Regions from separate parts of the Homo sapiens genome. Here regions 1 and 2 are each linked to region 3. Evidence: fine-mapped expression QTL. A gene starts in region 3. Each other region holds a variant in brackets. All regions are shown on one strand. Distances are from middle to middle. Region 1 overlaps RCBTB1 (RCC1 and BTB domain containing protein 1). Region 2 overlaps SETDB2-PHF11 (SETDB2-PHF11 readthrough). Region 3 holds the start of RCBTB1 (RCC1 and BTB domain containing protein 1).

What was found. PIP is the estimated chance that this variant, and not a neighbour inherited with it, causes the effect.
Region 1: its variant is fine-mapped to the expression of RCBTB1 in whole blood (TOPMed, PIP above 0.99).
Region 2: its variant is fine-mapped to the expression of RCBTB1 in whole blood (INTERVAL, PIP 0.99).

Annotation. Positions count from the first base shown.
Region 1 is chr13:49,552,755-49,563,282 of GRCh38, reverse strand. It overlaps RCBTB1 (RCC1 and BTB domain containing protein 1), which reads left to right. Exons shown (of 13, transcript NM_018191.4): 5 at 3,199-3,365; 6 at 7,610-7,768. Among named protein-coding and RNA genes, the nearest start is that of RCBTB1, 28 kb to the left of the region's middle. The variant A/G (reference allele first, on the strand shown) is at 6,348.
Region 2 is chr13:49,523,189-49,533,716 of GRCh38, reverse strand. SETDB2-PHF11 (SETDB2-PHF11 readthrough) reads right to left here. Exons shown (of 21, transcript NR_135324.2): 17 at 10,476-10,528; 18 at 9,501-9,632; 19 at 7,780-7,944; 20 at 7,259-7,330; 21 at 4,741-5,206. It overlaps PHF11 (PHD finger protein 11), which reads right to left. Exons shown (of 10, transcript NM_001040443.3): 7 at 10,476-10,528; 8 at 9,501-9,632; 9 at 7,259-7,330; 10 at 4,741-5,206. The coding sequence ends at 5,052. RCBTB1 (RCC1 and BTB domain containing protein 1) reads left to right here. Exons shown (of 13, transcript NM_018191.4): 13 at 1-1,771. Among named protein-coding and RNA genes, the nearest start is that of PHF11, 32 kb to the right of the region's middle. The variant G/A (reference allele first, on the strand shown) is at 4,241.
Region 3 is chr13:49,579,554-49,590,081 of GRCh38, reverse strand. It overlaps RCBTB1 (RCC1 and BTB domain containing protein 1), which reads left to right and starts at 4,524. Exons shown (of 13, transcript NM_018191.4): 1 at 4,524-4,638; 2 at 9,498-9,577. RefSeq lists a silencer at 4,291-5,000.

The sequences.
Region 1 (10,528 bases), 27 kb after region 3:
CCTCCTGGGCTCAAGCGATCTTCCCACCTCATTTTTAAATTTTTTTGTAGAGATGAGGTCTCACCATGTTGCCTAGGCTGGTCTCAAACTCCTGGGCTCAAGTGATCCTTGTGGCTCGGCCTCCCAAAGTGTTGGGATTACAGGTGTGAGCCACTATGCCTGGCAACTTTTGCTATTTTGTATGTGACTGTTTTTTCCTCTTTGGAAGCTTCAAGGATCTTTTTTTTATTTTTATTTTTATTTTTTTAAGTATTGTGACATAATCATGATTCTGTACTCTGGTGTAATTTTTAATTTATTGTATTGGTCATTTCTGGAAATTTCTTCTTGTAATATTTCATGAATAGTTTCCCTTGTTGGCTGTGTGTGGTGGCTCATGCCTGTAATCCCAGCACTTTGGGAAGCCAAGGCAGGACGTTTGCTCCAGGCCGGGAGTTCAAGACCAGCCTGGTCAACATAGCGAGGCCATGTCTCTTAAAAAAAAAAAAAAAAAAAAAAAAAAAAAAGCCGGGGATGGTGGCACGCACCTGTAGTCTCAGCTACTCAGGAGGCTGAGGCAGGAGGATCAGTTGAGCCCAGGAGTTTGAGGTTGCAGTGAGCTATGATTGCGCCACTGCACTCCAGCCTTTGTGACAGAGTGAGGGTCAGAGTGAGACCCCATCTCAAAAAAAGAAAAATTTTCTTCTTTGTTTTCTCCTTTATGGAATTTTTCTTAGAAAGTTAGAGATTCTGGAGTGATCTTCCAAATTTTTTTTTTTTTTTTTTTTTGAGACAGGGTCTCTCTGTCCAGGCTAGAGTGCAGTGGTGCAATCTTGGCTCACTGCAGCCTCACTGTGTGAGCAGGTGGTTCACACCTGTAACCTCCTGGGCTCAAGCAATCCTCCCACCTCAGCTTCCAAAAGTGCTGGGATTACAGGTGTGAGCCACCATGCCTGGCCTGATCTTCATGATTTTTTAAAAATGTTCTCTCCCATCTGTGTTCTGGGAAATTTCTTCAACTTTATCTTACAACGCTTATGTCAAATTTTTAACATTCCCATTGTTTTATTTCCAAGTGTTCTTTCTTGATCTTTAAATGTTTCTTTCCAGAACTTGTTGCTATTGTTTCATGGATTCAGCGTCTTCTATTTGAGATTATTTAGAATTACAGGTTATTTTAAAATTAACCTTTTTTTTTTTTTCTTTGAGATAGAGTCCTTTTTGCCCAGGCTGGAGTGCAAGGCACAATCTCAGCCCACTGCAACCTCCGCCTCCTGGGTTCAAGCAATTCTTGTGCCTCAGCCTCCTGAGTAGCTGGGATTACAGGTGCGCGCTACCATGCCTGGCTGATTTTTGTATTTTTTTTTTTTTTTTAGTAGATGTGGGGTTTCACTGTGTTGGCCAGTCTGGTCTTGAACTCCTGACCTCAAGCAATCCACTTGCCTCGGCCTCCCAAAGTGCTGGGATTACAGGCAAGCCCAGCCTCATAGAAACTTGTTATAGGTTTTAGTAACTGGTAGAATTAGCTACCTTCTTGCTTTTTTTTTTGTAGGGTTTTCCTATTTATTCTTGTTTGTTTATTCTTCCCATTAAACTTTCTAATCAATTTGTCTACCTCCAGAAAGTAACTTTAAGCTTTTATTGCTATTTAAACTTTATAAGTTTATGTAGGAAAAACTAGAATCTTTATGATACTGAATTTTCCCATCTAAGAACAAGGTATGCATTTCTCTATTTAAGTCTATTTTTCTGTTTTCAGGGGTTAAAACACTCATTAGTTTGGACATTTCTTTCACCTGCCGTAGCTTTTAACACAATATCATGGATCATACTTTTTGTGTTTTATACTCTTTCTTTCAGTCTTAAGCCTCATCTTTCTCAGGATGAAATTTCCCATTTATGGTTTCTGTCATAATTTCTGTAGGAGGGAATGGCTCTTGTGAGCCACATGTCACCTGGAAGAGGACTCTGAGTTTGTGTGGGCTGTCTTCGTTCTACAGTAGACAAGTAGAAGTCTGTTTCCCCTGGTTGCCTGGGGACTGCTGTGAGTGACCAGCAGCCTAACTGTAATACTTGGATTTCTGCTGTTGCCCTTGAGTGTTGTTGCCAGGCAGACTGTCCTTAATAGGTCAGGATGTTTTATTACCATGGGAAAGATAAGAGGAGAATGTGTAACTCTGGGAGACCTGCCCTTGGCACTCGGGGGTGCTGTGGAAAGAAATGCCTGAAACGATGATACTTCAAGAGATAACACAAGAAAAGTTGTCTTCATCAGAATCTCAGAAAAGATAAAGTCATTATAAAAAAAATTCAGACAGAGGAGCTTCCGGGTTGGTGACCACATCGAGGTGCTGGGAGGGGGTGGCATGCCAGGGAGGGCATGGGAGCTCCGTGCACCCCTCATCCCCGCATACCTTACCCTGTGTGTCTCCCCCATTTGGCTGTTCCTGAGTTGAATCTGTTAGAATAAGCTGATTATGCTTTCCAGAGATAGTCACAGCAGTGTGAGTGACAATGCCTCCAGGTGTTGCTAGTCCTCAACTCTCAAGTCATCTCCAGCCTTTTAATCTTCCTGAGATCACACACACTGTGAAGCAAAGACAAGCCATCTTCATTGTCCCCTGTCCAAATTCCTGACACAGAATAAATGAGCGTAAAAAAATGGTTGCTTTATGTAAAAAAAAAAAAAAATTCAGCCAGATTTCATGCCACTAAAATAAAATAGTCTGCTTCAAAGAAGCCCTGAGACTTTTGTTTCCTTTGTAAACAGTCTATCTCTTTCCCCTATACTTGGTGAGCGAGTAGCCACACGCCCCCTGTGGGTTCCCCGTGACTTGGTATTTGGTTAAGCAATGGTAAACATTAACATCGAGCTTTCTTATCATCTGCCTTTTTCTTGGCATCTGACACAGAAACTATTGAGATGAATCAAAGCTTTTAGAAAGCCTAATTCTTGCATACGTAAACTTTGCTTTTGATCACAAAACTGATCTTTCTATGTTATTACCAAGTTTTTTCTTTAAAGATTTTGCATCTGTCTATCCCGTTCTGTCACCCATCTCTCTCTCCTTTACTCTGTCCATGGTTACTTAATAGAGAGGAGGGGGCAATGGGAGAGAAATGAAGGTTGGAGAAGGAGCTGTACGAAGTTCTGGGGAAGAAAGTACAGGGTTACTATTTCTTTTTGGAGCTGATTTTTTGTGTGCTTTGTGTGCACAGATGGAGTGGTTTATGCCTGGGGCCACAATGGATATAGCCAGCTTGGGAATGGGACGACCAACCAAGGCATTGCTCCCGTCCAGGTCTGTACCAATCTCTTGATCAAGCAAGTGGTGGAAGTAGCTTGTGGCTCACATCATTCAATGGCTCTGGCAGCTGATGGAGAGGTAAGTATGCTGCTTTTATTCTTTATTCTTTTTTTTTTTCATCATAGTAAATACACTTAACATAAAATTTACCAGCTTCACCAGTTTTAAGTGTATAGTTCAGTGGTGTTAAGTATGTTCACCTTGTCATACAACTGTCACCAGCATGCACCCACAGAACTGTTTCATCCTGCAAAACTGAAACGCTGTCCCTGGTAAACATTCACTCCCATTCTGTCCTCCCCCAGCCCCTGACAACAACTTTCTTTTTTTTTTTTTTTTTGAGATGGAGTCTCGCTCTGTCGCCCAGGCTGGAGTACAGTGGCACGATCTCTGCTCACTGCAAGCTCCGCCTCCCGGGTTTACGCCATTTTCCTGCCTCAGCCTCCCAAGTAGCTGGGACTACAGGCACCCACCACCACACCCGCCTAATTTTTTGTATTTTTAGTAGAGACAGGGTTTCACCGTGTTAGCCAGGATGGTCTCGATCTCCTGACCTCGTGATCTGCCCGCCTTGGCCTCCAAAAGTGCTGGGATTACAGGCGTGAGCCACCGTGCCCAGCCAACAACTTTCTACTCTGTTTCTTTGAGTTTGATTACTCTAGGTACCTCACGTAAGTGGAATCATACAATGTTTGTCCTTTTGTAACTGGTTTATCTCACTTAGCATAATATCCTCAAGGTTCATCCACTTTGTACCATATGATAGGATTCTCTTCATTCCTTTTCAGGGCTGAATAATATTCCATTGGATACATATAGTAAGTGCCCACATAATGTCATTGATAGATTCTTGGAAACTACAACTTTAAGCAAAAAGACATGTAATGAAACCAGTTTTACCATTGGCTAATTGATAAAAACAAGAGTTAAGTTCCTATGGTATATTTCTGGTCACAAAGACATCACCAAACTTCTGAAGACCCAAACCACTTCTTAAACATTTAAATAAATGCAAACTAATACATATATTTAACAAAGATTAATAAAAGCAATAAGAGAATTATTTACCCAATTTATGGTGAATCACTGAGTTGGGGTGATCATAGTGGTGGTGGGTTAAGTCAAGGAATAAATGTTTGCAAAGCAAAAATTACAAGGGGCACCTCCTACTGCCACACAGTTCAAAAGCAAACGATCACAAATGTGACAGCTCACTGAGGGTGTTTGACTGTGTTGTTTATTGTTATGCATTTGTATGGTTATTGTCTACTTTGTGAATTTTTTTTTTTTTTTTTTTTTTGGAGACAGAGTTTCACCCTTCTTGCCCAGGCTGGAGTGCAATGGTACAATCTCGGCCCACTGCAACCTCTGCCTCCTGGGTACAAGTGATTCTCCTGCCTCAGCCTCCTGAGTAGCTGGGATTACAGGCGCCTGCCACCATGCCTGGCTAATTTTTTTGTATTTTTAGTAGAGACGGGGTTTCACCATGTTGGCCAGGCTGGTCTCGAACTCCTGACCTCAGGTGATCCTCCCGCCTCGGCCTCCCAAAGTGCTGGGAATACAGGCATAGCCACCATGACAAGCCTACTTTGTGAATTTTTATTTTCTAATAATTTGTATTCATTTATTCATTCATTCATTTTCCAACCCGTTTGTTCCAGTTCAGGGTTGCATGTGGCCACAGCCTCTTCTGGCAGCGCAGGACACCAGGTGGGAAGCAGCCCTGGACAGGATACAGGGTGCACTCATGTATACCCCCACACTCACTCTCACTAGAATCATTGAGACATGTATACAGCTTAGACACAAACTAGTCTGCACAGCTTTGGGGTGTGGGAGGAAATCAGAGTACCCAGAGAAAACCCACACAGACATGGGACATGCAGACTCCACAGACAGTGGCCCTGGCCGGGAATTGACATTTTTTCTCATTAGTGTTATAACAAAATGATGTTGAATGAAATGACGTTTTTCAAGGACCTGCTGTAAGCCACACTTTGTTTGTCTATTCATCTGTTCATGGATGTTTGGATTTTTTCCACTTTTGGCTATTGTGAAAATCCTCTGATTTTAATGACCATATTTGTACTTGATGTGGTGTGAATATTGTAGCCCTGTGCATGTAGCTAAAAACCTTGTGGGAGTGCACTCTCTCTCTAGCATAACGTGTATTGTATAATCAAGATTACACTTTTGATGGCAGTAGAATTCATTCTTTTAAAAAAAAAATTTTTTTTTGTAGAGACAAGAATCTGGCTATGTTGCCCAGGCTGGTCTTGAACTCCTGGGCTCAAGCGATCCTCCTGTCTCAGCCTCCCAAAATGCTGGGATTATAGGTGTGAGCTACCGCACCCAACCTAGAGTTCATTTTTTAAGGCAGCTGAGTCCCATGCTCTTTGCTAAGACTATAGCTCAGATGTGTGACAGTGTTCTGTACTTTTTTTTTTAGTGACCCCATCCTTAAGGTCTATTTTATTTTTCAGTATATGTAATGAGTTTGGAAAAAATAACTTTACTATCCTCCTAGTAGGTACTGTAACACTTGTTAAGCCCCCAAGTTGTGCTTATCTTAAAGGTCACTCATCCTATTGATTCTGTCTTCTAATCTTTTGTACCATCTCCATTTCCTCTCCATTTCCTTTGCCTTTTTGTTCCTCCATTTTGTTCCTCTCCATTTCCATTGCCTTTGGTCAAGTCTTGTCATTTCCTGCCTAGACTACTGCCATAGTCCCTTCTATTCCCTATCTTTTAAGTTGATCCGTCTGTCCAGTCTTGCTTTGCTGTCCTCTCTGGTTTCTAACACAGATTAGATCATACTGTTCCTCTCTTTGAAGTCCCTCAGTGATGTTACAGAGATTTTATTAAGTAGGACAACTTATAAGTGAACAAACCCAAAAGCTCAGGGAGACCAAGATTTCATGACTGGGATGTGCTGGAGCCAGGCATAGCACACAGGCCTCATGCCCCAGATCCACTGTTTCCTAGTCCATTTCTTGGTTAGTGGAACTATAGCCCCAGTTTTTAAACAAGAGTCAGCAGCACTGCAAGGGAATGTGATGT[A/G]TTTGAGAAGTGCCAGAAGAATGATTGCTGAAATTAGCTCAAACTTGCTAATTTATGCCGGCTGGGTTCCTGATTTATTTTAATCTTAAGCATATGGTACTTTGAATAATTATACTGAATATTAATATTTGCATAATTAAACTAGATATTTATGTGAATATACTTTGAGGAGGTGTTGCAGGTTATTTGTTTTGTACCTGTGAAATGAACCTGTAACACATATACCAGAGGGCTCTACTGTTGTTGCCTTGGCCAGCATCAGACAAGAATCATGGAAGCCACACTCAGTATATACGTGGACCACCTCCTGCAGCCACGTGAAGCAGGGTGGGGAGCGGGGGCTTAGACATTTCCTAATGTTGGAGGAAATTATTTCCTCTACTGCCAACACCTCCCTCCCTAATTCATCTCTCTGTTTATAGTCTTGTTTAGAATGGTTTCCATGAGGCTGGGCATGGTGGCTCACGCCTGTAATCCCAGCACTTTGGGAGGCCGAGATGGGTGGACCACGTGGTCAGGAGATCGAGACCATCCTGGCTAACACGGTGAAACCCCATCTCTACTAAAAATACAAAAAATTAGCCGGGCATGGTGGCGGGCGCCTGTCGTCCCAGCTACTTGGGAGGTAGGAGAATGACATGAACCCGGGAGGCGGGGCTGGCAGTGAGCTGAGATCGCACCACTGCACTCCAGCCTGGGGGACAGAGTGAAACTCTATCTCAAAAAAAAAAAAAAAAAACCAAAGCAAAACAAAAAGAATGGTTTCCATGGAAAACAATGAATATTTATGCCCAAAGAGTTGAGCAAATGTTTTACATCACTAATACTTATGTGGCATATACCGCATTTCCTATTGATGCCACATTCGTATGTGTGTATGTGTAGTTGTGTGTGTATACACACACACACAAATTATAGAGGGAATGTAGCATGGTGGTCAAGAGCATAGCTAGACTGCTTGGGGTTAAATTCTCTTAGCGCTACTTACCAGCTTTGGTACCTCAAGCAAGTCACTTAACCTCTCATGTTTCAGTTTCCATGTATAAAACGGAGATGTATAAAGTGGGTACTACCTACTCTAGGGTCACTTTGCAGGATTACTAGGCAGGTTAAATAGGTTAATGTGTGTAAAGCATATAGAACCGTTTAGCACATCTTAAGTACTCATTAAGTAGGATAATTTTAATTTTTATGATTATTTGTGTTGGGGTAGAATTTTCACCCTGACTATTCTTTCCTTTTCCTTTTTCTTTCTCTTGTAGGTGTTTGCTTGGGGTTATAACAACTGTGGCCAAGTGGGATCAGGTTCTACAGCAAATCAACCAACTCCTCGAAAAGTTACAAACTGTTTACATATTAAGAGGGTAGTTGGCATTGCCTGTGGTCAGACTTCATCCATGGCTGTTCTGGACAATGGCGAGGTGAGGTGTCTCCACTCCCATTTCCCTTTCTACCTTCTTTTTCAATTACACGTCAGTTTCTTCACAAGGTGAATGTATCAGATGGAAGAAGGAAGAGTGCTTTGTTTTGGTAGCTCCATTGAAAGTTAACTGATTACTGACTGAGGAGCTGGAGGTTTTTTGCTCCTCAGTATGACTTTTCTAAATTCCAGGATTTACCTGAAAGTAAAGATTCTATATGTCTAAGTTGTATTTTTTGCAAGATCCAAAGAGCCTAATGCCTATAGCTATTTGTTCGTGATATTTAATGTAATAGATTAAAGAATTTAATCCTACCTTTCTCTTCCAATGAAACAATGTCAACTGTACATTTTAAAATTAACTGATGAAGTCCTTGTAGAACTACCTACCTATATCTTGAATGTTCACAGGAGGAAGCAACTTGCAAAAGCAGATTTTTTGTGGGGTCCTGACTGTTGTTAGCTACTTTTAACAACTGTCCCTTTAGTTACCCCCTACTGTGGTCACTTTTGAGCTGATGGTTATTTCTGTGAAATTAGTCTCTGGATGCAGCTTCCACTTAAATAGGCTATTTACTACCTATGCATATTTTAGTGCATGAAAATTATACAAAGATATTACCCTGGACACAGATGTTTTGGCATCATGCATTGGTGTGCTTGGGCAGTGGTCCCCAACCTTTTTGGCACCAGGGACTGGTTTCATGGAAGACAGTTTTTCCACAGATGGCGGTGTTGGGGGCATGGTTTTGGGATGAAACTGTTCCACCTCAGATCATCAAGCATGAGTTAGATTCTCATATGGAGCGCACAGCCTAGATGCCTTGTTGTGCAGTTCACAATGGGGTTCGTGCTCCTGTGAGAATCTTATGCTGCCATTGATCTGACAGGAGGTGGCGCTCAGGCAGTAATACTCCCTTGCCCGCTGCTCACCTCCTGCTGTGCGGCCCGGTTCCTAACAGGGCACGGACTGGTACCGGCCTGCGGCTCATGAGCTGGGGACTGGGGACCCCTGTGCTAGGGTGCTTTAGAGTTTATGCATAGACCTTATGTTAACTTATTTTTTAAAAAATCAATCTCAGTATCATGAAATGACTTCAGAATTCCTTGGGATGGCCGTTGAATATCCTCCATTCCAGTATTCTTCTCTTATTTTTAAAAATAAGTTTAATTTTTAGGTTATTATTATATGGTTATTTTAACAAAGTAAAGGAAGACAAGTGAAACAGATAAAATAAAAAGTGAATACCTTTTCCCAATCTTGTTAATAGTTTCATGCATATCTTTTTGGACTTTTCCCTTAAACAATTATATATGGGTGAGTATAATTATCTTTTTTTAAAAAAATGGGATGATTATACCTACTGCAGCTTTTCTCTGCTATTCTTCAGCCTGCTTCCCGCTCCCCTGTATAGCATCCTGTGTTTATCTGTGTCTGTGATCAGACCATTTATGCGGCTTTCCATCATTATGGCTGCTGACTTTGGCTTCTGTGAATGACCCACATACAGAGCTCTACTGATGAACATGTCAGTTTTCTAATTTTTTGCTGTTATAGACAGAGTTGTGGTGATTTTCTATGTTACTCTGTGTATGTGTATCTTTGTACACTTATACAAGTATTTCTATAGAATAAATTTCCAAAGAATTTCTGGGTCAAGAAGTATGCCATTTGAAATACTGATAGCCATTGCCAAATTTCTCTCCAGAAAGTTCATGTCTGTTACACTTCTGGCACTGGGTGAAAGTGCCTTTAACCATCTCTCCCCAGGCCCTTAAAGTCCATTCCCCCTTTCCGCTCCATCATGTTACCCTGAAAAGCCCCAGTCTATGTCTGCCGCCCTACATTGCTGTGGGGCTCGATGCCACCACAAATCTTGGGTTTGTAATTTGAGCAAGGCCTTTATTTGTTCCTGGTCAGTACTTTTTCCTATGGCTATTTGGAACCTTTAACACTCCTGTCAAACCTATGCCTAGCTCTGTTACTTTCAGCAGATGGGCCTCCTCTCACTCTATATCCAAGGGACTGTCACGTTCTGGGAAGTCTTCTATTTTTAATCCTCTTTCCTCTGCTTTCCCTCTCATGATCCCCCTATCACTCCTTAGTTTAGAGCCTCATCAGAGCTCACCTATTTGCTAACGAGGGAAGAAATGACCTCCTAAAGGTTCTTCCTGCCTCTAGCCTTATATGCTCCATCATCTTTCATACTGTGGCCAGCATTATCTTTCAAAAATACAAATTAAATTAATATTTCAATGAGAAATTTATAGATGTATTGCACTTTCCCTGGTAGGTTTTTTGTCACTTTCCCTCTGAGCTCTTGCCTTTCCTTCTAGTCTTTTTGTTGTTGTTGTTGCCAGGCTGGAGTACGGTAGCACGATCTTGGCTCACTGCAACCTCTGCCTCCCAGGTTCAAGTGATTCTCCTGTCTCAGCCTCCTGAGTAGCTGGGGTTACAGGCACGCGCCACCACGCCCAGCTAATTTTTGTATTTTTAGTAGAGATGGGGTTTCACTGTGTTGGCCAGGATGGTCTCGATCTCCTGACCTGGTGATCTGCCCACGCTGGCCTTCCAAAGTGCTGGGATTACAGGCGTGAGCTACCCCACCCAGCCTTCTTCTAGTCTTTCTACTACCACTACCGCAGTTGTGTCCAGCCAAGCCCACCTACTTATCTTCTAAACTAGCTTCTAACACAGTCAATACCTTCTGCTTGGAATGTTTTTGCTCTCCTTCATCCTTCAGCTCTGCTCCAATCTCCA
Region 2 (10,528 bases), 56 kb after region 3:
ATGAATGGAGAGGCCCCATCGTGAATTAAAGATGCTGACCTGGGGATTGTTAAGTGCTGCCTTAGTTGCTAGTTTAGTAGCCTTACTGTGAAGGAATAATTAAGATTGTTTCAGACTTTTGTTTGTGTGCTTGCGTTGATGACTTTTTTAACTTCAAGATAAATCAAAGTAATAAGTTTAACGTATATTAAACCTGTTGAAATGATAATTATGTAAAGATAAATATTCTAGGTTAGTCAAGATTTCTCTTAAGATTTAAGTGCATAAAGAATAGTAATTTAGAAGTATCCGTGAAAAGTTGATAATGAAAGAAATTTGATGAAGGTGAATATTTTATAAATTAGAATCTCCACTACTTATCCAATGGTGTTTTATTTCATTAAGGTAGAACTTGAGAACTCAAGTTTAAATTGTCCCCCACCACCTTCTTCTATAAATGCAAACTTAAGAGGAAAATAATGACATGTATAGTATACTCTTGCCTTCCTAAATTATGACTGCTGAATCATCATATCTACTATATATGACTGGAAGAAGTGGTTCTTCAAGTCAACCCTCTTACAAGACTTAGTGGAATTTGCTTTATCTACTTTAGGCCAAATCCATCACACATTGGCTTATGTGAAACTTTATCATCTTTCACTTTTGGTTTTCCTCTGTTTTTAAACATCTTAGGTATAACAGCACAATTTCACCTTGAAAAAGCACCAAAATTATGGTGTTCCTGAAAAGATCCTATTAAAAGACAGTAGTTTATTTGAACTGGTTATGGAAGGTGACTTTGGGATGTAAGAGTGTTCAACTGTGAGTTTCATCATGTGTGTCCGTTGAGCTTGCTTTTAAGAGCAATGTTTTGCTTTGCTCTCTGGTCCATGAACTCATTTCCATTTGAGTGAGTTCCCTTAGTGAATTTTGTCTCCTGCTTGGAAAGTCTCTCTTCTGAACCTGGAGCCTGAATACATTTTCAGAGCCAAATTACAAGTGGGTGAAGACATGCTACAACTACTATTTTTAGCAATGTTTTTAAATTTGTGTCTATTGGGGTGGGAAGGGGAGTGAGGCCCTAAAGATAGGAATTCACTGATAGCTGAAATAGATACAAGCCTAGGAGCCCCAGCCCCCTTTTCTTGACCATATCACAAGTGATTGAAGCCCAGTGAATTAGTCGGTTAGAATTCGTTCTACAACATGATAGAACTTTTCTTACTAGCTTCAGAAATGCACATTGATTTGTGCTATGATGGGTGGTGTTTGTAACAATCACTGTTCTATAGGCTTATGATCTGAGCAAAATGTGAACTTCAGTATGTTTACTATTGCTCTTACTTGAAAACTTTTTTTCAAAAAAAGCACAAATTAAAGTAGTAAATTCATATCCATAGATAGTTCATTCATTCAACAAATATTTACCAAGTTCCTAATATAAGTGAAGGACCACTTCTCATATTAGATTACTAAGTCATTTGTATGAATATGTGTGGCAGTGAAGAGAACAGGTCTTTCAAAAAGCATTTGATTATTTTTTTTAAATACACTCTCTTATTTTTCTACTTGTTTTTTTGTTAATCATAGCAGGATATGACAACTCTTATTTGAATTGATTTTTTCATCTAATGTAATAATGGAAGCCAAAGTATTCATATTTCTTAAGATAGCCCTAAATGTACTCTTGAACTTCTTACTGGAACAATGTTTGATACTCTAGTATGTAAGCTGTATTTATGTAATATTTAGAACGACATGTTAATAAACAAAGTAACATTAAAACAGGCACATAGAGTTGTTTTTTTCCTTCAAAATCAGTAGTCTGCAGCCTTAAAAAGGAAAGAAATTCTGACACATGGTGCACAGAGGTGAACTTGAGGATATTATGCTGGGTGAAATAAGCCACTCACAGAAAAATACTATGTGATGCCATTTGTGTGATATACTTAGTCAAATTCATTGAGACATAGTAGAATGGTCATTGCCAGGGTCTGAGGGGAGAGGAGAATGGGGAACTTGTTTAATGGATACAGAGTTTCAGTTTTCCAAGATGAAGAGTCCTTTAGGTCAGGGGTCCCCAACCCTCGGGCCACAGACCCATATTCATCCCTGGCGTGTTAGGAAGAGGTCGCACAGCGGGAGGTGAGTGGCGGATGAGTGAGCATTACTGCCTGAGTTCTGCCTCCTGTCAGATCAGTGGCAACATTAGAACATTAGATTCTCATAGGAGTGCAAACCCTACAGTGAACTGAGTATGCAAGGGATCTAGGTTGTGTGCTCCATATGAGAATCTAATGACTGGTGATCTGAGGTGGACCAATTTCATCCCAAAACCATCCTCCCCACCCCTGACCAACCGCCCCATCCCCATGGTCCGTGGAAAAATTGTCTTCCACGAAACCAGTCCCTGGTGCCAAAAAGGTTGGGGACTGCTGCTTTAGGTGCATGGTGGTGATGGTTGCACAAAAATGAATGTTTAATGCCATTGAACCATACATTTAAAAATGATTGGGATGGCAAATTTTAGGTTATATATATATTTTACCATAATAAAAAAAATCAGTGGTGTGATTCTTAATGGGTATCAGGCTAAAAATAGGTACCAGCATGAACATGTCAACTGCTTGATTCTCAACTATACACAAACAAACATCATAGAAATCTTTGGATTTTATTCCTGCTGAAGGGTAGTACAGTTGAACTGGCACAGTAGAAAAATGTGTCTGTACCTTTGGGGGTACTTGAAGGGAAAGGCATATTCCCTATCCTCAAAGAACATATGAATTATTAGGAGAGAGGGAGATAGGTTTAGGAATTAACAACACAATGAGATACTTATAAAGAGCTTTTCATAACAGTCAGTGAGAGAAAACCAAATAGGATGATGTGGTTTGGCTCTGTGTCCCCACCCAACTTATCTTGAATTGTAATCCTCAGTTGTTGAGGGAGACCTGTTGGGAGGTGATTGGATTATGGGGGCGGTTTCCCCATGCTGTTCTCATGCTATTGAGGGAGTTCTTATGAGATCTGATGGTTTTATAAATGGCAGTTCCCCCTGGGCTTTGCGTGCTCTCACTTACTTGCCACTACGTAAGACGGGCCTCTTCCCTTTCCGCCACAATTGTAAGTTTCTTGAGACCTCCCCAGCCATGCGGAACTGAGTCCATTAAACCTGTTTCCTTTATAAATTACCCAGTCTCTGGTATTTCTTCATACCAGTGTGAGAACGGACTAATACAGTTAATAGGGTTAACATGACAAGCAGTTAGTTGTTCTGAAGATAACGCTTGTGTTGGATAGGGGAAAATATAAAGTGTCCTTTTAGCTCATCTCCAAAACAAAAAGAGGCACAAGAGATGGGGGCTAATGAGCCTTCCAGAGCTTATCATAATTAAGTTTGGTTAGAATGGAGAAAATAAGACAGAAATGTTAGCAAGGGGAGTGTGTGCGTGCATGGGTGTGTTTTAACATTTATTTCCCATAGTGCCAGACATTGTGCTCTCTGCTTCACATTTTACTTACTTGTCCATATTTTGTCCCATAAGGTAGGCAGCAGCATTCTCAGATTAAATAATCGGATTCAAGTTTTTCAGTAGTGACATAGCTGAAGTTCATACTCGGCTCCGCCTTATGAACCCATACTCGGGTTTGCCCAGTAGCCAGCCTCATGGCCACCAAACACATGGTGCTCCATGGTGCACAGTTACATGCTGTGTGAGTCACAGGTTAAACGTGAAAGTAAAGTGGGGGACAAAGGTTTTTTTTTTTAAATAAAGATCATGACATCAGAATGATTAGTCAGATAAACTTTGCTAAGATGGCTGGGCGTGGTGGCTCACGCCTGTAATCCCAGCACTTTGGGAGGCCGAGGCAGGCAGATCACGAGGTCAAGAGATCGAGACCATCCTGGCCAACATGGTGAAACCCCATCTCTACTAAAAATACAAAAATTAGCTGGGCATGGTGGTGCGCGCCTGTAGTCCCAGCTACTTGGGAGGCTGAGGCAGGAGAATCGCTTGAACCTAGGAGGCAGAGGTTGCAGTGAGCCGAGATCACACCACTGCACTCCAGCCTGGCAACAAAGTGAGACTCCGTCTTAAACAAAACAAAACAACAACCAAAAACTTTGCTAAGACTTAATATCAGGATAGGAAGCTGAAGCTACAGTAATCAATAATCATCTAGACTAGCGGAAATCTGTTCAGAGGGTGTTGGATGGGGTCTTCACTTCTGTAGTTTTTAAAGTGCCCCACAT[G/A]ATTCTGATGTGCGGCCGGATTTGAAATCCACTGGTTTAGATTTTGTCCCTAAGATATAAGAACTTAGGCTAGGGCTGCCATTACAACTGGAATGGACTGTTCTTTTTCATCTCCTGCAAATATTTTTCCAGTACTTATTTATTACATGTCAGACACCATGCTTGGAGACTCAGTTAAAACCCATTTTGAGACGCAGCATTATTGAAAATCAGAGTACCATGGTAAAAAATGAGAACTGTGAATGTTAAGTTTTCAGGGGTCAGACGTGATAGTGTGGGCATAAAAACCAGAATCGTATATTAGATTGAGAAAAATGTAACTGTCAATTTTTTTTTTCATTCTTGCATACTCCCGATAATGTTCTTATTCAGAGTCCAATTTAAAATTTAGGTGTCTGTTTTGAAGATGATGAATCTCCACGTGATAACTGTGGCTGAAAAGAGACTTTTCAAAAGCAGACTTTGTGACACGAAAACAGGCAAATTTGGTACAAGTAAAGTAGTATAATCCAAATTTATTATATCTAAGAGGCTATCATGGGCTGTAAGTAGAATCAAAGGTTAAGAACATTTTATGCACTTATTCCACAAACATTTACTGAGCATACTAGGTGCTGGGAATGTGACAGTGAGCAAAAAACACAAGAGTGTGCAAAGAGTGATCAAAATGTCAACCAGTAAGAACAGGGAAGAGCTGCTGAGGCCAAGAGGAGACGACTAGTTCTAAAGATGTGTGGATTTCACAGCCTGGTCTCTGGTTTTGAGCCTGATTGCAATTTGACATGACTCTTGGCTTAGGAAACGGTAATCCCTAATAAGACAGGGATGATATTGATGTAGAACTTGACATAAGATCTCTATTTTCTTGAAAAGAGCACAAGGTTTGTTTTAAGTCCTGAAGTAGCTCAATCTCTTCCTTCAACTGCTGCCACCTTTGTTGAGATGCATGAATTTTTTTCTCTATTGCTATGAAAAGAAGAAATAAAATTATTTCAGCTTATTCAGTAGTTTTATTAGAAATAATGTACCATTTCTAGCCCCTTTCACTTGCAGGTACAGATACACAATCCTCGTGCCTCTGGTGAAAAGGATCCAGAGCCTTATGGGCAGGAGCTGGTTTCTTTATGCCTTCACTTCCTCCTTCTAATTCAGGACAGAATTCTAACATTTATCATACACAAAGCTGTTCAGTAAACCCTTAAGATTTTGTGCACATTTATAGCAGAACAAGTCCCTTTGTATATCTTTGAGAACTTGAAAACAGTGACTGTATAACCTTCATGCTATACTATATCCATTTATTGAGAGATGATAATTGGAGAATGTGGCTAGAATACCAAGGTTAAGGACAAATCCTTCCTAAAAATGTGTCCAATTTTTAATGTTACATAAAGGCTTTTGGTTTCATTTAGAAATAGGAAGGCTTTTAATTGTGGAAACTTAGAAAAGCTTAGGAGGAAGATACTTAGGCTTTATAAATAACAAATAGTAGTCAATGGCAATGTAATTTTTAAAAGCCTCAAAATCGAACAGTTACACACATATACAAACTTTATTCAGAATAACTGCATACGTATAGTTAACTTAAAATATGAGTAAGGCTAAATTAAGCAAGTTTTTATCAACCAGGGTAGTGAAACCCAACTTAAGCCTTTTAAGTTGAATCTCATGCAGTTCTAAGTAGTGGCACCCCCGCCATACTACACTATAATATATGTACTCCCACCTAATCCATCCAAGTAGTGATGTGTGACATGTTCCCTTACATGAAAGAAAAACACACATGGAAGTCCCCTACAAAATAACTCTTTTTAGAAAAAAATTTTTAAGGCTGCTTTAAAAAAATATGGATACTGCTATATATTAGCAGACATCCTCAAAAGACTATTAAGACAGACACTCTTTTTGGTAGATTTTTCAAAGTATTTTTCCTGCTGGTTATAAATGTAGTAAAAAATTCAAATAGAAATGTATAATATAGAAGCCAAAATGAGAAAGGTTGTGTATGTTGAGACAGGGATATGAACTAATGATTTCTTCACAGGGAAATCTTATTGTCTTCCTACCATATGCTGGAGAGACAGATGCATCTGTGGAAATGCAGAGTGTGGAGGGCACTCACTCTGTTGTGCAACTTCAGGGGGAGCCATCCACCAATGCTGTTTGACTCTGTGCCCGGCCTGCCCAGCTGTGTGTGGCAGCCTTGATAGAGAAGTCAGACCAGACTCATAAACAAGTGGAGGTGTAGCCTGTCTTGAGGGCATCTTAATGCTGAAAGGAGGACTCACTCAATAAATGGTTGATATTTAATAGGAAGGTTAAATCTCCCTCCTCCAAACCAAACGAGATTTTCTACTGCAAACATTTCTTGGCTATTCTTACTTGCTCATTTTTTGTTTGTTTGTTTTTGTTTTTTTTTTTTCTGATGAACTTTAAATCAGTCGTAACCCTCCCTGATAAGAAATTAAATTAGATTTGAGGATTAATAGTGGGAGAATTAAAATTTTGACCTATCTCACCAAGCGAGAGGGAGGCAAGCGGAGGGATGGTTTATCATAGCCTCGCCACCCAAGAGCAGAGAAGCCGCAGGAAGCTTTACCAGCTCCTGCCTGGGCCACACACAGGCCAAAATATGCTCCAATTTTTGAATCAATTTTTTGTTGTCTCTACTTTTTTAATGAGTTTTTCTCATTATAAAAGTATTTGTGTGTATATAGAAAATCTGGAAAATATAGCAGTAAAAGAACAGACAAAAATCACTATATTCCAACTACCTACAACCAACTACTGTCTCCACCAGGTGCAGCTTTTGTCTGTGCACATGTACCTCGATATTTTTTTCCTGTGTGTGTGGGCAGGTGGGCGGGGTCATACTGTTTTTGTAATTGGCTTTTCTCATTTAAGAAAACAATGAACATTCTTCTAAAATATTTTTATCACCTGTACAGTATATTGTTTCAATATCGTGATAAATATTTCTCAAAACTATGCTGCTCAGATGTTATATAACTCATATACCTGCTTGAAAATTTACAAATGTGTCTTCGAACAATCTACAGTCAAAAAGTGCACTCCCGATTTCTTCATAGTCTGGAGGGAGAGAAACATTTTCAATATTAAACAGTTTGTATAGGCAGAAACTCCTCCATTTATATATGTAATCCAAAACAGGGGAAAGGAAAGAGAGCAGTCATGTGCCATGGAACTTTAATGTTAGATGGCAACAGCAGCAGCAGCACTACAGGGAAGCTGTCAGAAATGTAATTCTTGGCATTTCTCTTTTTTCTTTTTTTTTTTTTTTTTTTTTTGAGACAGAATCTCACCCTGTTGCCCAGACTGGAGTGCAGTGGTGCGATCTTGGCTCACTGCAACCTCTGCCTCCTGGGTTCAAGCGATTCTCATGTCTCAGCCTCCCAAGTAGTTGGGATTGCAGGCGCGCACCGCCACGCCCGGCTAATTTTTGTATTTTTAGTAGAGACAGGGTTTTGCCATGTTGGCCAGGCTGGTCTCGAACTGCTGACCACAGATGATCCACTCACCTCGGGCTCCCAAAGTGCTGGGATTACAGGCGTGAGCCACCGCGCCTGGCCCCCAATTCTTGGTATTTGTACTGAATCAGAATCTCTGTGGGATAGGCCCAGCTATCTGTGTCCTCACCAGCCCTACAGGTGGTTCTCAGGCACACTGTTTGGGAAGTGCTTGGTCTAGAGGAAATAAATGAATAAAATAGTATAATAAATGAGCTTTTGGAAATGCTTACTATTTATTTCACTTTTTGGTTTTGCCCTATAGAAAATAATCCCATTCAAATAAACATTTTTTATATTGTTGCCTACAATATAAGCTGTCCAGCTTGTCCTTGTAAAATAACTATATTTATAATAAAGGTTTTAAACTCATGGGATATAAGTTATAAGAAAGCTAAGTAAGGCTGGGCACAGTGACTCACACCTGTAATCCCCGCACTTTGGGAGGCCAAGGCGGGCAGATCACATGAGATCAGGAGTTCAAGACCAGCCTGGCCAACATGGTGAAACTCCATCTCTACTAAAAATACAAAAATTAGCCGAGTGTGTTGGCACATGTCTGTAATCTTAGCTACTCTGGAGACTAAGGCAAGAGAATCACTTAAACCCTGGAGGCAGAGGTTGCAATGAGCTGAGATCATGCCACTGCACTTCAGCCTGGGAGAGAGAGCGAGACTCTGCCTCAAAAACAAACAAACAAAAAGCTAAGTAGCTATATACCTGCACATACAAATGGAACTTTGACTTCCCAAAGAGCCCTTAAGAAAGAAACTTCTTTAACAAAGTACATCTTTAAACCAAACATCAGTCAAAACATTAAAATTCCTTCTTCTATACTTTAAAGTTTGAGTTAACCTTATTTAAAAAAGGACACTTGGCTTATTAAGGAATAGAATTGGATTCCAAAATCAAAACTGTAACATAACACTGTTCTCAGATCTTAGCAACAGGAATGCAGGGCGGTGGCAGGGGAGCATATGTGACCGAATCAATCTCTGAATGGCACATTCTCTTAGTGGCCAACCTGTTAGACACCTCTGGAAAATGTACCACAACTCTCAGGGCATGAGGTTACTTTTGACTAAATTACTGAGTTTGTAAATTACCCACATCCTGTTGATTTATGAAGGATAGTAGATCTGGTCCAATTATTTTATTAAAGAATGAGGTAAAGGGCCAGGCATGGTGGCTCATGCCTGTAATCCAAGCACTTTGGGAGGCCGAGGTGGACGGATCACCTGAGGTCAGGAGTTCAAGACCAGCCTGGCCAACATGGTGAAACCTTGTCTCTACTAAAAATACAGAAAATTAGCCAGGCGTAGTGGCGTGTGCCTGAAATCCCAGCTACTCAGGAGGCTGAGACAGGAAAATCGCTTGAACTTGGGAGGCAGAGGCTGCAGTGAGGCAAGATCGCACCACTGCACTCTAGCCTGGGCAACAAGGGCGAAACTCCGTCTTAAAAAAAAAAAAAAGAATGAGGTAAAGGTAAAGAATGACAAGCTGGACAGCTTATATTGTAGGCAACAATATAAAAAATGTTTATTTGAATGGGATTATTTTCTATAGGGCAAAACCAAAAAGTGAAATAAATAGTAAGCATTTCCAAAAGCTGATAGAAGAAAAAAGTAGTATAGGAAGAAAATGGGCCTTTTTTTTTTTCTTGGGTTTGTTTTGTTTTAAATCTAGATCTGGGAGAAGTCTCTATACTTCGAAATATTGCTCTTCATCAGTACCTGATTCTGAAGTAGTCTCATCCATGAGTTTTTCTGGAATTGAATGAACTTTGTCTAATATTTCTTCAAGTAAGTAATTAAGAAGTCCTGCTTCCTTGCATTTCTTAAGAAAAGGAACTTTCACAGTTGCATCTAAGAATAAGACAAACATTTGAGAAGGAAATAGTCTTAGGGCAGCTAATCATAAATTACTTTATGCTTATTTCTTCAGACCTTGCCTAGTGGTGGATGCACATACTTAGTAAAATAATACAGCACCTTCACCCTTTTTATTAATTATAATTTCATCATACCTCATTTTTTTTGGCCAGCTGAAACAATGAATAAAATGTTACAAAAAGTAAAAATGAAAATTTCTCTGCTTACAATAACTATATGAATTAAGAGGCTTTTTTAAACATATAAAACTGTAACTTTTTAAATTTCAATACCTTTTGGGGAACAGGTGGTTTCAGGTTACATGGATAAGTTCTTCAGTGGTGATTTCTGAGATGTTGGTGCACCTGTCACCTGAGCAGTGTACACTGTACCCGATATGTAGTTGAATTAAGAGGATTTTTAAAAATTACCCTTAAGTCTTTGACATAACAGCCCCTGTCACTTCTTGTCACAGTTTGTATGTGTTGTTAGTGGAATGTCTATTTCTTTAAAGAACAGAGAACTACAGTTACAGGGGTCACAGTGTGAGGGGTGACACATTGCTGGATTCTGAGCTCAGGCAAGCCTGTCTGTGTCTTTATTAATAGAAGTCTATCTTTTCTTAATACTGAATGCAATGGACCATTCCAACCTAAGTTATCTTGATATGCTGGGATTACAATAGAGTGGACAGTTGCGATAAAGATTTATACTCATTAATTACCACAAGCCTAGAAGAATAAAGATTTAGGCGGGATACCAAGTTTGAAACAGGTGGGTTGACATTTTTATAAGTATTGTAGGCCATATTTGTTACAGACAACACTTAGCGCAAACCTGTGTGTCTGCCATGCTCTTCTTTCACTTGTCTTATGAATGTATTACATTTC
Region 3 (10,528 bases):
ATCTGCCTACCTTGGCCTCCCAAAGTGTTATGATTACAGGTGTGAGCCACCGTGCCTGGCCTTCCCCCTAAATTTAACTTTTTGAGGAAACCAAGGCTAGAAAGGTTCTTGTCCGCTATTATGTATTTCTCTGATTGTTTCCTCATAAAGTCACTGAGTTTGTCCCAGGTAACTTCACCTTTAATATTCCAAATGAGTGAGTCAAGCCCCATCTGAGAATATTCTTACTACCTCCATCATCATCCCAGGGTCACTCTAAGAAGTCTTCAAGATGCATGTTAACATTCAGAGGACCAGTCCTGCTTCATAGTCAATTGCAGTCAGAACTTCTATGTCTCAGAAGACTAGAGACTGCGTATCTCCCACCAGAAGTTGGTGACCTCCTAATAAGCCATGGTGCTACCACAGCTAAATGCAGGTGGAACAAGGACCACTGCTAATGAATAAAAAATAAACATTTCACCATCAACTGACATGGACAGTGAAGAAATTCCATAATTAAGAAGCTCTCTTGGGCTGGGTACAGTGGCTCACACCTGTAATCCCAGCACTTTGGGATGCTGAGGTGGGAGGATCCGTTGGGTTCAGGAGTTCAAGACCAGCCTGGACAAAATAGTGAGATCCTGTGTCTACAAACAATAAACAGAAGTAGCCAGGTGTGGTGGTATGCATCTGTAGTCCTAGCTACTCGGGCGGCTGAGGTGGGAAGGTCGCTTAAGTCCAGGACGTGGAGACTGCAGTGAGCTGAGATCATGACACTGCACTCCAGCCTGGGTGACAGGGCGAGACCCTGTGTCAAAAAATAAAAATAAAAAAATAAAAAAGCTATTTTGCCTGCCAAAGGACAAAGAAGCAATTTTATTCATTTTTTATTTTTATTTTATTTTTGAGATGGACTCTTACTCTGTTGCCCAGGCTGGAGTGCAGTGGCATGATCTCGACTCACTGCAATCTCTGCTTCCAGGGTTCAAGTGATTCTCCCACCTCAGCCTCCTGAGTAGCTGGGATTACAGGTGCCCACCACCACACCCAGCTAACTTTTGTATTTTTAGTAGAGACAGGGTTTCACCAGGTTGGCCAGGCTGGTTTCAAACTCCTGACCTCAAGTGATCTACCTGCCTTGGCCTCCCAAAGTGCTGGGATTACAGGCGTGAGCCACCATGTCCGGACAAACCTTATGATATTTTATTAGGTTCTTGACAGGTACTTTTCCCAACGTAATCATGTGTTAGCATTAAGTGGAGTGGTTCTCCCTTTTCACATGCTGGAGGTTAAGCCCAGTTTCTGTCTTAAAGTACTACCTGTTAATTGAATTATTTTGCTCTAAAGGAAAGGTTTGGAGTGCTCTAAAATAATCTTCTTTGGGGCCAGGCATGGTGGCTCACACCTGTAATCTTGGCACTTTGAGAGACTGAGGTAGGCAAACTGCTTGAGCTCAGGAGTTCGAGACCAGGCTGGCCAACATGGCAAACCCCGTCTCCACAGAAAATATAAATTAGCCCAGCCTGATGGCCCTCACCTGTGGTCCTAGCTACTCAGGAGGCTGAGGTGCTGAGGTGGGAAGATCACTTGAGCCCATGGAGGTTGAAGCTGCAGTGAGTTATGATCATGCCACTGCAGTACAGCTTGAGCAACAGAGCAAGACGCTGTCTCAAAAAATAAAAAAAATCATCTTCTTTGGAACAAGTAATTTTGGTATTTTTACATAATAATCATAGAAAGCTTTTGAGGCTGGAAAAAAAGGTAAAAAATCACCTCGCGTTAGTCCAAGCCAGTTTTATTCTTATTTATTTATAGGGACAGCGTCTTGCTATGTTGTCCAGGCTGGTCTTGAACTCCTGGGCTCAAGCAATCCACCTACCTTGGCCTCCCAAAGCATTGGGATTATAGGCGTGACCCACTGTGCCTGGCCTAGGCCAATTTTAGATGCAGAGCCTATGATGTGCCTGATAGAAAGTTATTCAATACAATAAATAACACCAATACCAGTAAATATGTCATTCTTTCAAGTATATTAAAATTAACCTAATTTGGTTTCCTTTATCCTAGATGTGAATGAAGTCATCAAGGCATCAATATAGGGTTACTTGTTTTTGTTTTTTTGAGACAGAGTCTCACTCTGTCACCCAGGCTGGAATGCAGTGATGCGATCTTGGCTCACTACAACCTCTGCCTCCTGGGTTCAAGTGATTTTTGTGCCTCAGCCTCTCAAGTAGCTGGGATTACAGGCACGTGCCACCACAGCTGGCTAATTTTTGTATTTCTAGTAGAGACAGGGTTTTCCAAAGTTGGCCAGGCTGGTCTTGAACTCTTGACCTCAAGTGATTTGCCTGCCTTGGCCTGGGATTACAGGCATGAGCCACTGCACCTACCTGTTTGTTTTTTCCTAAACAAATAGTACTGTTTCATGTGTCACTACTTTTGAACACATTGCTCTCTCCTGGAATGTCTTTTTCTTTCTTCTTATCTACTTCCTGTCCAACTGACCTTCTCATGAAGTTTCTCCCTGACTCCCTGATTTGTGGTCCCTGGTTTGTGTTCACTTAGCACCTTGTATCATAATACTTTTCACCCTGTACTGGAATAATGAACCAGACTACACATTCCTTATCAGCAACCATGTCTCATTCAGCTTTTAATCCTCCAAGATGCTCCAAGTATGGCATCTGACACATAAGCAGTGAGGGCTCAGGACATATTTGATTGCTCACACCCCATGCCCTCGTTTTTCTCTCAGACATGTTTACACAAGTTCTTTTGATCGGGTTGCAACCAAAAGAAACTGATTTTAGTTTCTTTGAGCAAAACAGGCCTCTTCTAGTAAATTCACTCAACTGCCACTACTTTGGGCAAGCCACTTCATTCAGTGAGTATTAAGGGTCTATCACATGCCAGGCGCTGTTCTAAACCCAGAAGAATCCTGTTTCAAAGAGTTTATAATCTAAGGGAGAAGACAGCAATAGACAATTCACCTTTTACAGGAAATGCGCAGTCTATTTCTGGGCAGTGTGAGGTGTATCAGAATATATATAGTATTCTGGAAATCAGGGAAGAAGTTGCAGCTGACACTGTCTGGATGAACTTCAATTGCTAAAAAATCAGGGAAGAGGATGCTGGGAAGACAAGAGTAGGCGGCATTTGACCTGGATTTTGAAAGATGAGTAGGAAACTGATGTGTACTTTGGAGGCTGTTGAAGAAAACCAGAGCCAAACAGTAGTTGAAGTGGTAAAAACATTTTATTCAGGAACTAGTGCAACAGGAGCGAGACCTCAGAATAGATACAGAACTAAGCTCAATTCTCTTATTGCATTAGTTTCTTAATACCTTTTTTTTTTTTTTTAATCATTGGCCCTGGTTTTCTTTAAGTGGGGGAGGTGGTGATTCAGGACATTTCAGATACAGACAAAAGAATGAACAAAGCAAAAAGGAGTAAAGAAACTTAGAGAAAAAGTAAATAATCCAAAGAAAGTTGAGTAGTCAAGGAAAACAAATTATTTGTAGCCAGAGCCTCCAGTAATGTTGGGGAAGTGGCAAGAGATGAGGGACGGTAGGACTTTTTTAATAATTCAAGTTACCAAAAGTGAAGTTATCTGGTGATATTTAGAAAATGAAATGTTTTTCTGTTTATTCCTAGGAGCTCAAATGGGAAAGGTAAGTGAACAAGTGGCTGGAATGCTATGCCAACAAGTTTGGATTTTATCCTGCAGCGCCAACTGGGAGTTCTCCGAGAGCTGTATGGTATTTTACAAAGGGACTGTAGTCTTTATAGGTGATAGGCTGGAGCAGCTCGTAGCAGTCCCTCTCCTGGCCTCAGTTTACTCGCTGGTAACACGAATCCGGTTGGACCAGATGCCCTCTTAGGTCCCGTCTAACCTCTATGGCATGCTTCCGAGGTACCTCTGCCTCTTTCCAATACCAGGACCTGTGCCTCATCTCGTCCTTCCTTCATACCTTTGTCCAGCTGCCACCTTCCCTAGTCCCTGGCCTGCCTCAGGTACTTTCAATCAGGAAGTGAGGGGCGGGGAGGGAGGGAGGCGCGTCTCCAGTAAAAACAAACTAGTCCCAGCTCCGCCGCCTTTCCTCCCAGGCAGCACCACCTGGGTGGTGCCCCGGGGCCAGACGCGCTCTAGAGTGGGCAGGGAGCCAAGTTTCTCGGTCGCTTTTCCGTCCTAGGTCTCTGGGGTGGTAGGCCGACCCTCCCCACAGCCAAGCCATCTCGGGGAGCAGAGCAGGAGCCCGTGCCTCGCGCGTTCCTGGTTCCTCAGACACAAAAGCCTCTAAGTCCCGGCAGCAGCCACCGGATTTCATGGGGACACTCCAGTGGCAGGGCCTCGGGGCGGGCCTGAGACGGCCAATCGGCTTCTAAAGAAGTCGGGTTGTAGGGCCCGAAGAGCAGGGTTTCGGCCGGGGCCGGGGCCGGGGCGGTGCGGGATGCTCGGCTGGGTAGCGTCCCGGGCGCGCGCTGCACCGGGTCACGTGAGGCGGCCGGGGCCACGTGACCCGGCGGGCCCGGCGCCCTGGCGCTCCTCCTCTTCGCTGCCGGTGGGCACCGCCGCTCGCTCGCACTTCTGCGCCCATTGGAGCTTCGGAGATCCCTGCGGTCCCGCGGGACGGCGCGGCAGCAGCTGACCTCGCAGGTAGCGTGTGGGCGCGGGGTCGAGCTCGCGGAGGCCTCTTCCCCCTCGGCCCTGCCCCTGCTTCCCTTCCCCGCAGGCCGGGCCGGGAGTGCCCCGTTACTCCTGTACCTCCCGCCTCCCTCGCTCGGGCTCCCGGGCAGTCCCTGCGGGCGCTGCGTCCGGGGCGAGGGATGGGGTCCCCGGCCCGGCCCCGCCAGCACCTCAGCTAATGTGCTCTCCTGCGAGGAGGAGGGAAGGATGGGGAGAGGCGAGGGAAAGTTTTCCCTGCCTCCCTCTCTTTTTTGAGGTGCACGGACTCGATTTTGCTCGTAGCTGAAGTCTGACTGCTGTGGGTGCCGTTTTACTGAGAGGAGATCTCCCCTCCGACTCTTCCTATTCTCTCTCCTTTCCAAGATCTTAGCATCTCTCCTTCGTCTCCTGAGAGTAGTGCTGTCACAAACCGTATTCTTTATCGTTTCCCTTTCCGACACAGAATCCACAAAGGCAGGGATTTTGTTAGTGAGGACTTTTATCCAGGCGTGCGGTGAACTCTAAATAAGTGACGTTTCCCTTGTCTGCCTCTGATAAAGTACCTACCTGCTCGGTTTAAGATGACTATCGAGCACGCTGTGTTCTGCTCGCATAAGTGGCCTTTTGTTTTTATTTATTTGCATGTAAGACACTTTCAAGCCATCTGCGGAACTCTGCAGCTGGGGATTACAATTTTATAAAGCAGTCTTGTAATAATGCTTTTAGAAAACCAGATTCATGATCTTCCTTGCTTTTGCCCTATTCTTTTTTTGGGAGGACTAAAAGCCCTTAGAGGACAAAAACTGAGTTTCTGAAACTGGTGTGTATTGTGGGCTAATAACATTAAAACATCAAAGTATATAATGCCGGAAGGAATGGAAAAATGATTGAATCCTGAGGGCAGTTTATAGGTGCTTTAAACTTTAGAGTACTCATTTCAAGTGAGCACTGGGTGAATTTCACCCGTTTAAACTGCTTTCAGGGTCGAGGATGTAACTGTATATTTGGATTCTATTAATATAACAGTTCATCTGTGGGATGGACTTTAATCCATTTAATCCATTGTGTGAATATCAGTCTATTTATTAATACTCTAGACGGGTCCTTTTTCTTCTACCCGCTAGTCTGTTTCTCTTGAAGAGGAAGCATATTCATCTTTAAAGAGATTTTTGCAAGTGATTTTTTTAAGTGTGTGATCCAAATGATAAAGTTCTGTGAACTTCAGAAAACAAGTAGCCATAAAAACCCAAAGCTGTCAAGCTTGTAGCTTTTAAAAAATGATTTGAAAATTTTAAAGCGTGCCCGTATGCTGCAGCAAGAACTTGGCTCCACCTAATATACGGGAGCTGGGAAGTCTGAAACAGTACCCTCCTTTTCCTGGGAGTCATTGTGGGGTAGATGAAACTGTGAAGGAAAGTGAGGACCTTTATTATGATGATGATATCCCTTCTGTGTGTACTACATTAAACAGTAAGTCATGCATAGGAAAGGAGGCTGGGGCCTCACAGAGTCTAGAATCTAGGCAGGGCATTCGGACACATTTCAAAATATTCTCTGGTTTTACAAAAAGTTAAAAATGTTACATATTGGCCAGGCGCAGTGGCTTACATCTGTAATCCCAGCATTTTGGGAGATTGAGGCGACAGATTACACGAGGCCAGGAGTTCAAGACCAGCTTGGCCAACATGGTGAAACCCCGTCTCTACTAAAAATACAAAAAATTAGCTGGGCGTGGTGGTGTGCGCCTGTAGTCCCAGCTACTCAGGAGGCTGAGGTACGAGAATTACCTGACCTGGGGAGGCAGAGGTTGCAGTGAGCCGAGATTGTGCCACTGCACTCCAGCCTGGGCGACACAGTGAGACTCCATCTCAAAAAAAAAAAGTACATGTTGTGTACGTGCTGAAGAATGCACAAGAGGGGTATGATGAGTGTTGTCTGAATTTAGCCAGAATAGACTTAGTAGAGGAGATCAGTTAATGAAATAATTATATAAGTCAACTGTGTGTTAGATCACATTTAAAACACACACACACACACACACACACACATACACAAAAGCACACTTCTTTCCTGGGGTAGAAAAGCTCACAGAGGAGACCAGATGGGTACCTCTAAAGACTTACGGTCTCCAGCTTTCTCTGGGCTTGGTCTTACCATCCTGCTAGGTTTCTCTGCTCAGTGCTCTTTCCCATCCTCCCTGGTGACTGCTTCAGACTTCACCATTTTACCCCCAATTGCTCCACTCCACTTTTTTCTTTTTGAGACAGGGTCTCACTATGTCGCCCAGTCTGGAGTACAGTGTGCCATGTGATCATAGCTCACTGCAGCCTCAAACTCCCAGGCTCAAGTGATCCTCCCCACTCCCAAGTAGCTGGGACCACAGGTGCGCACCACCACATTCGACTAATTTTTTTATTTTTTGTAGAGACAGGGTCTCCCTATGTTGCCCAGGCTGGTCTTGAACACCTAGCCTCAAGCAGTCCTCCCGCCTTGGCCTCCCAAAATGTTGGGATTACAGGCGTGAGCAACCACACCCGGCCTCCACTCCACTGTTTATTGCTACCTCCCCTCTTACTCTTAGCAAAAAGCCTAACTCTTTCTTCATAGGGGAAAAATAGGTGACCTCAGAAGAGAATGGTCTCCAAATGCCAATCAAAACCATGAGATACCACCTCCCATCCACTAGGATGGGTATAATACAAAAGACAGTAAATACTGGAGAAAGCAGCACTGTTGTACATTGCCGGTGGGCATGTAAAATGGAGACTCAGCGGGGAGAGAGAATGAGAATGAGAGAATGAGTATGTCTCCAGCATCTGGATTCCTAACCTTTAAACTGGCTTTCATTCACATTCACCCTTTCCTCCTCCTCTTGTGGAAGGAAGAAAAGGAAGACTTGCTCCTTTCTACAGTTTCTCTTGCATTTATTTATTTATTTATTTATTTAGAGACAGAATTTTGCTTTTGTTGCCCAGGCTGGAGTGCAGTGGTGTGATCTTGGCTCACTGCAACCTCCGTCTCCCGAGTTCAAGCGATTCTCCTGCCTCAGGGTCCTGAGTAGCTGCGATTACAGGCACCCACCACTATGCCCAGCTAATTTTTGTATTTTTAATAGAGATGGGGTTTCACCATGTTGGCCAGGCCGGTCTCGAACTCCTGACATCAGATGATCCACCTGCCTCGGCCTCCCAAAGTGCTGGGATTACAGGCATGAGCCACTGCGCCCGGCGCTTCTGTTGCACTTCTGCTTCAGATCCCATTCCCTGCTACTTTCTTAAGGCCCATTGAGTTGTTACATCCTCTCCTCTTTGATGTTTCTACTGGCTCCTTCCCATTAATTCAAACATGTTCAAGCCTCTAACAATGTTTACATTAAAAAGGTTAACAGAAAACGTCCTGCAACTCTATCACATTCTGTGATTACTATGCGATTTCTCATTTTTCCTTCAGAGTGAAATTTCTTGAACAAGTTGTTTATACTCATGGTTTCCTTTTCTTCACCTTTCACATACGCCTCAACCTGCTGCAACCTGGCCTCTTCCACCCACAACCTCAGTGAAACTGTTCTTGTTAAGGTCACTGATAATTCTCCTTGTTAAATCCAATGGAAGTTTCTCCACCCTTCCCTCGTTTGGTGTCTCAGCAGCATTCGACACTAGCATGCCTCTTGCCTGTGATGCTCAAGTCCCCAGATCTCTGTGACACTCTGTCTCCTGGTTTTCCTCCTGGTCTACCTCTTCCTTCACAGTCCCTTCTAGGGGGTACTCCCTGTCCCTTTCCCGTTGGAGTTTCTTAGAGTTCTTCTTAAGGTACTCTGCTCTCCTTATTTCACTTGCTTTTTTCCTGGGTGATTTCATGCCAGATTTCCAAATCTCCAATCCAGACCTTTCTTGAGCTTCAGATTTCTAAATCCATCTGTTGGGACTTGTCCACTTTAATATCCCACAGGTACCTGGCACAAATGTCCATAGTAGGACTCATCACCCCTGAGGCCTGCTGTGCTTTCTGCTGTAGTGAGTGGCAGCACAGTTCTCTCTCACTCAAGCTCAGCGTCTGCCTGTGATCTTCGGCTCTGCCTTTCTGCTTATCCAGTGCTCCTTGTCCCATTCAGCCAGTTGCAGAATCTTCTTGATTTTCCTTCTTGTTCAATTTTCTCCATTTCCCTAGTGTGGGCTTCAATCCCTTCTTTTCTGGCTTACCATAGCCATCTGGACTTCCTCTAAGCACTCCTTTGTCGTCTCATGTCTCTGTGGTCAGCCAAAGTAATCTTTCATAGACCTACATCTGTTTATGCCACTTCCCTGCTTAAGACCCTTCAGGGATTACCTGGTGCTCTTAGGATAAAGCCTGAGTTGTTTGGCTGCAGCCATGCTGACTTTCTTTCAGTTCCTCCACCAGAGCCTTACCTGGCATGAGTGCTCACTGTTGCAGGCGCCTGCTTCTCTTTAGGTAGCTGAAGCATACTTCCCAATTCTGTTGCCTCCACAGCATCTGACCAGCCACACTGTTGTGAGCATCTGTTTATGTGTCTAGATCCCCCAACCCCATGTAATTTCTGTTGGTGTTGGCTCTGTGTCCTGTTTACCTAAGAAAATTTATTGAATTAATAGTGTATGGTTCTGCCAGTCCATTGCTGGAATTTCAGTTTGGCTTTAGGTCATTGCAGGGTACAGTTGATACTTTTCATACAACTGGGGACTAATAGATGAAATCACTTTTGGGGTATCCACATGAGAAAGATTCATGAAACCATATTTAGATTTGAATTTGACCCACCAATTCCAGCCTTGAATTCATTTGGAAAATAAAATGAAGTATTATGTTTTATCCATTTCTTTTTTCTTTTTCAGACAGGATCTTGCTCTCTTGCCCAGACTGGAATACAGTGGTGTGAACACGGCTCACTGCAGCCTCAACCTCCTGGACTCAGGTGATCCTCCCACCTCAGCCTCTTGAGTAGCTGGGACTAACTACAGGCGCACACCATTATGACTGGCTAATCTTTTTATTTTTAAGGAAATGGAGTCTCGCCATGTTGCCCAGGCTGGTCTTGAACTCCTGGGTTCAAGTGATCCTCCTGCCTTCGCCTCCTAAAATGCTGGGATTACAGGTGTGAGCCACTTCACCCAGCCATCTATCCATTTCTTTAAACTTTGACCCATCATTGGTTTTTTTGTTCTGTTTTGTGACACCTGTTTGTTTGGTTTAACAAAGAACAAACTTACAGAAAAAACATTATTTCTAATCATCGATATTTCTTTTCTGGTTTCCTTTTGAAAACAACAGTATCCTATAAAAGCAATACTTTTATAAGATCTCAGTCAGCTGCACAACCCTAGATATGTTATTTTTTTCACTGCTAATGCTATTGCCACTTGGTTCGTTTGCTTTTCGAGCACATGGCTGAGGTTAGAAGTGAGACGAGATGAAATGAATGAGATGAAAGCAGCCCCTTGGATGATGGGGCTAAAGAAATGCTTACAGAGGCCATTATTGCAAATTGTGCTTCAAGTCAAATAACTTATTAGTGGTTGGGAAATGACAGTTGTAGGAACTTACATTTTCCTCTAAAATTAGTGATGAATTTGAACAAAACTTATGAAACAAAGGGTAGGCACAATCAGAGAATTCTAAAACACTAGTCATACTGTTCTCTAAATGAAGGTGGGGGTATTATCTTCACTCACCTGTACAGGTGGCTTCAGCTTGAAGGATGACAAACTACTTTGGGAGAAGGCTACATTCTCAGACTCCTTAGTCAAGCATTCAGGGCATTCTTCCTTTCCCTTTCATTCTTTTTTTTTTTTTTTCTGAGACAAGTCTCGATCTGTCACCCAAACTGGAGTGCAGTGGCACCATCTCGGTTCACTGCAAGCTGTGC